2 separate regions of the Homo sapiens genome follow, and region 1 is linked to region 2. A link means that fine-mapping ties the variant in region 2 to the plasma level of a protein whose gene starts in the linked region. Region 2 holds a variant in brackets. A gene starts in the other region. All regions are shown on their reverse strands.

Region 1 (2,925 bases), not on the chromosome of region 2:
CCTCTAATGCCTTAGTTTTCTCATCTATGACATGGGGATAATAATATTAACTACATTATAAGGTTGTGATGTGAGGTGAGAAAAAGCACCAAAGGTGTTTCACCTGTAATATGCATTATGTAAATATTAGAAAATAATCATTGTTTTTCTTCCAAATGAAATTGCTCTTTTCTTAACCTCTCTCTCACACACAATAATTTCTTTATTGGCTGTGTCATCAGCAGGGAGTGGGCAACAGGCACCACTCTTTCTCATGAGCTTCTATCAACCAGAACAAAAGTATCTTTCAATTCATGTATATTTTATCCCAAAATGTAACTTCTGTCTATACACTGTAAGGTACCTTATTTCCAAGAGGAAGCAAACATTTTACAGAGAAAGATCTTCATGAACAATGTGATGCTTCTTTATAACCTCATATCATAATTAGAACTTCAAGAAATTCAAACTAATTGGACATCACTTTGTATATCCCCTTGACTGTTTTGTTCATCTCATTGCTTAGAAAGGAGTGTGGCACTTAGTAGAACTTCAACAAATATTTGTGAAATGCTCAATAGATGAGATGTGATGTCTTTTCACAGTTGATAACTATGTCTTATGCCTCATTGAAGCTTCTAATAATAACACACAACCCACAAAAGAAGGATTTGTGGATAAGGAGAAGGATAGGTAGAAAAACAATGATTATAAGGGAAAAGAGAACAAGATAAAGAATCAATTTTTAAAAACATAGTAGGGTATATACAGAGTCCAATTTCCCAAATACTTCATAGGTCTATCGGTAGATCATTACAATGAAAACAAGAGTCATTCTTACCTGTCCTATATTGCCAGCCATACTGCAGAGGCAACCCCCATAAAATATTCTGTTCATTATCTGGTGCAAATTTTGCAAAATACCTGGCTGTCTGATTCAATATGATTTTATACATCCCCATTCTCTCAAGGTATACCCAGGGATTAATAATGTACATGCTGTTCTCCACCCTGTAGTCACTGAGCTGACCAGGACTCTCCTTCCACAGAGGGGGCTCTGTCTCTGAGAGATTGGAAGTCCCTGCTAAGGAAGCAGAAAAGGAACCAACTAGTACACAAACCCAGGAAGGAAGAAAAGCCATTGTGCCAGAGCTGGGGATTGCGATCGTAGCAGGGCTTTTATTGGAGAATGGAAGAGGAAGTCATGATATTTGCTAACCTCACAGCATATCAACACTTTGCTTTTTTGTTTTCCTGGATAGGGTGAAAATGTAGAAGAAATTGATGTATTAGCTAACATTTAGGACAATTAAATTTCCCAGACTCTTCAGCGTCAGAATACTGTGTCAGAACCTAAATACAAGGTTAGGCTTGTTTATAATGTATTAGATAAAACTATTTATCAACAAAAACCTTCCAGAAGTTTCCCAGGCTGCATTGTGATTACAAAATACATCACAAATGGCTTTAGAATGCTTCCCTCTAATAAAAATACTTTAACATATTTCATGGAAAATATTAAATAGCTGGAGATGGAAATACTAGGATTTATAATAATCTTCAAATGTGTACTAAAAATATGTGTGATCCAGTTGTAATACAATGTTCTGCTTCAAGAAAGAAGCTTAAAGAATATCTAATTAGCTCAATTCAATAATGAAAGTCAGCCTGCTGGAACAAAACCTGCTAGTTAATTCTTAATATCTATTTTTCATTCTTTATTAGTAAAAGAATCGTAGAATTTTAGCTGGGAATATGGTCTCCCAGAATTAAGGCTAAATTTCCAATTTGCTTTACACAAGCAACCATGTGACTAAGTGTGGACCACAGAGACATAAATAGAAATAGTATCCACAATTTCTGGAACATGTCCTAAAATGAAGGGCACATGTCAATTCCTCTTCCCTTCCTCCATGTTGTGGCTTGGATTATTGATGTGATGATTGAAATTCAATTCTGACCCCTAAACGCAAGGCACTATCTTAGGGATGACAGAATGCAAAGCTGGAGGTGGCTTGAGTCCCAGAGGGCTGTGGAGCCATGAGATGTCCTTGAATTCCTATATCTGAGTTTTACCTGAGCAAGAAACACCCCACTCTCTTGTTTCAACCACTGTTATTGAAGTTTTATTCACACATAGTAAAAATTCTTGCCTTATTAATAGGTAATGCATCTGAAAATCTCAATTATTTACACAATTAGATGCATATGCTTCATAGTAGGTCACTGGTACTGCTTGTTCCTGGCATGGTCCACATTAAACATCCTACAGCATGATTCCACTCTTTTTTCCTGTCATATTATTTACCCAATAGCCATTTGATAATTAATAAATTTTCCAGATATATTAATATAAAAGGGAATGGTAGGAATTGCTACTATAGATCAAGAATGCAATCATTCTGGAAATTTTAAAAGTATATTAAATGTTTATAAGAATATATACGTGAATATGTACTGTAAGATGTGTTACTCTAAAACCAAATGCCAGATTGTTCTCAATGGAGAAATCTTAAGAGCACTCCTTTAAGGTCAGAAATAAAATAAAAATGACCACCAGCATTATAATCATTTAACTTTTCTTTGAGGATACCAAACAATAAAGTTAGTAAAGATAAATAAATTAGAGGTATAAAATTGAGAATGAAGATGTGCTAGTACTTTCCCTTATAGATGATATGACAGTGTTCAGAAAACATAAGAGAATAAACTAGAAGGGTAACTACAAAGAAAAAATTTACTAAAGTGGTTAAGAACTAAATTACTATATATAAATCAATAGCTTTTATATATAAAAGCAATTGGGAAATATAATAGGTGAAAATGGAAGAAAAGTCCTCATTTTATTGTCAACAAAAGGGCCAACATATAAATGTATAATTATGGTAGATCTGTTTGGAAAAATCTCTAAGACTACAAAAAAATTGAACAGTTTTAAAGTCATAC
Region 2 (2,925 bases):
GGCCAGAGCAATCAGGCAAGATAATGAAATAAAGGGCATCCAAATTGGTAAAGAGAAAGTCAAACTATCCCTGTGTGCAGATGACGTGATCCAGTATTTAGAAAACCCTATAGTCTTGGCCCAAAAGCTTCTTAAGCTGATACACAACTTAGGCAAAGTCCCAGGGTACAGAATCAATGTACAAAAATCAGTAGCATTCCTATACACCAACAACAGGAAAGCTGAGAGCCAAATCAGGAATGCAATCTCATTCACAATTGCCACAAAAGAATAAAATACCTAGGAATACAGCTAACCAAGGAGGTGAAAGATCTCTACAAGGAGAACTACAAAGCACTGCTGAAAGAAATCATAGTACACAAACAAATAGAAACACATCCAGTGCTCATCGATAGATAGAATCAATATTGTGAAAATGACCATACTGCCAAAAGCAATCTACAAATTCAATGCAATTCCCATAACAAGACCTTCATCGTTTTTCACAGAACTAGATAAAACAAACAATCCTAAAATTCATATGGAACCAAAAAAGAGCCCACATAGACAAAATGGAAACACATCCAATGCTCATCGATAGATATAATCAATATTGTGAAAATGACCATACTGCCAAAAGCAATCTACAAATTCAATGCAATTCCCATAACAATACCTTCATCATTTTTCACAGAACGAGAAAAAACAATCCTAAAATTCATATAGAACCAAAAAAGAGCCCGCATAGCCAAAATGGAAACACATCCAATGCTCACTGATAGACAGAATCAATATTGTGAAAATGACCATACTGCCAAAAGCAATCTACAAATTCAATGCAATTCCCATAACAATACCTTCATCATTTTTCACAGAACTAGAAAAAACAATTCTAAAATTCATATGGAACCAAAAAAGAGCCTGCATAGCCAAAGCAACACTAAGCAAAAAGAACACATCTGGAGGCCTCACAATACGGGACTTCAAACTATAAGGCTACAGTCACCAAAACAGCATGGTGCTGGTATAAAAATAGGCACATAGATTAATGGAACAGAATAGAGAACTCAGAAATAAAGCCAAATACTTACAGCCAACTGATCTTCGACAAAGCAAAGAAAAACATAGAGTAGGGAAATGACACCCTGTTCAACAACCGGTTCTGGGATAATTGGCAAGCCACATGTTGGAAAATGAAATTGGATCCTCGTCTCCCACCTCGTACAAAAAAATCAACTCAAGATGGATCAAGGACTTAAACCTAAGACCTGAAACT[A/G]TAAAAATTCTAGAAGATAACATCAGAAAAGCCCTTCTAGACATTGGCTTAGGCAAAGACTGCATGACCAAAAACCCAAAAGCAAATGCAACAAAAACAAAGTCAAATAGGTGGGACTTAATTAAACTAAAGAGCTTTTGGATGGCAAGAGGAACAGTTAGCAGAGTAAACAGACAACCCACAGAGTGGGAGAAAATCTTTGCAAACTATGCATCTGACAAAGGACTAACGTCCAGAAGCTACAAAGAACTCAAACAAATCAGCCCCCTCCAAAAAAAAAAAATAATCGCATCAAAAAGTAAGCTAAGGACATGAATAGACAGTTATCAAAAGAAGATATACAAACAGCCAACAAACATATGAAAAATGCTCAACATCACAAATTATCAGGGAAATGCAAATCAAAACCACCAGGTGATACCACCTCACTACTACAAGAATGGCCATAATTAAAAAATCAAAAAATAACAGATGTTGGTGTGGATGTGGTGAAAAGGGAACACTGTTACAGTGCTGGTGGGAATGTCAATTAGTATAACCTTTATGGAAAAGAGTATAGAGTTTCCTTAAAGAACTAAAAGTAGATCTACCATTTGATACAGCAATCCCACTACTGGGTATCTACCTCGAGGAAAATAAGACATTATATGAAAAAAAAAACCTTACACATGCATGTTTATAGCAGCAGAATTTGCAACACACACACACACACACACACACACACACACACACACACACACCATGGAATACTACTCAGCCATAAAAAGGAATGAAATAATGGCATTTGCAGCAACCTGGATGGAGTTGGAGACCATCATTCTAAGTGAAGTAACTCAGGAGTGGAAAATCAAACATTGTATATTCTCACTTATAAGTGAGAGCTAAGCTATGAGGATGCAAAGACATGAATGATACAATGGACTTTGGGGACTTGAGGGGAAGTGTGGGAGAGGGGTGAGGGATAAAAGACTACAAATAAGGTGCAGTGTATACTGCTTGGGTGATGGGTGCACCAAAATCTCAGAAATCATCACTAAAGGACTTATCCACGTAACCAAACATCACCTGTTCCCCAAAAACCTATTGAAATAAATAAAAAATAAATAAAATGCTGAGCAAAAAAATAAACTACCATTGAGATTCTTCACAGAACTAGAAAAAAACTATTTTAAAATTCAGATAGAACCAGAAAAGACCCCGAATATACAAGACAATCTTAAGCAAAAAGAACAAAGCTGCAGGTAACATGCTATCTGACTTCAAACTATACTATGGGGCTACAGCAAGCAAAATAGCATGGTACTGGTATAAGTACAGACATGTAGACCAATGGAACAGAATAGAGAACCCAGAAATAAGGCCGCACACCTACAACCATCTGGTCTTCCACAAACCTGACAAAAATAAGCAATGGAAAAAAGACTCCTTATTCAATAAATGGTGCTGGGAATACTGTCTAGCCATATGCAGAAGATTGAAACTGGACTCCTTCCTTATACTATATAGAAAAATTAATTAAAGATGGATTAAAGACTTAAATGTAAAACCCAAAACTACACAAACCCTGGAAGAAAACTTAGGTGATATCATTCAAGACATAGAAACAGGCAAAGATTTCACAACGAAGAAATCTTTGCTTTCCAAAAGCAACTGGAACAAAAGCAAAAACT

Which allele goes with the higher level. Positions count from the first base shown, and alleles are read on the strand shown. Strength reflects both the effect of a copy and how common the allele is.
In carriers of allele A in region 2, the plasma level of the protein whose gene starts at base 1,133 in region 1 tends to be lower than with G alone (strong association).

What was found. PIP is the posterior inclusion probability: the model's chance that the variant is causal. The UK Biobank Pharma Proteomics Project read protein levels with antibody pairs (Olink). The fine-mapping took linkage between variants from a reference panel, not from the people measured, so its PIPs are less certain.
Region 1: it holds the start of C6orf58, and the variant in region 2 is fine-mapped to the plasma level of the C6orf58 protein (UK Biobank, PIP above 0.99).

The regions. Positions count from the first base shown.
Region 1 is chr6:127,575,382-127,578,306 of GRCh38, reverse strand. It overlaps C6orf58 (chromosome 6 open reading frame 58), which reads right to left and starts at 1,133. Exons shown (of 6, transcript NM_001010905.3): 1 at 821-1,133. The coding sequence starts at 1,121.
Region 2 is chrX:69,855,325-69,858,249 of GRCh38, reverse strand. All of the region lies in intron 1 of EDA (ectodysplasin A), which reads right to left. Among named protein-coding and RNA genes, the nearest start is that of MIR676, 170 kb to the left of the region's middle. The variant A/G (reference allele first, on the strand shown) is at 1,256.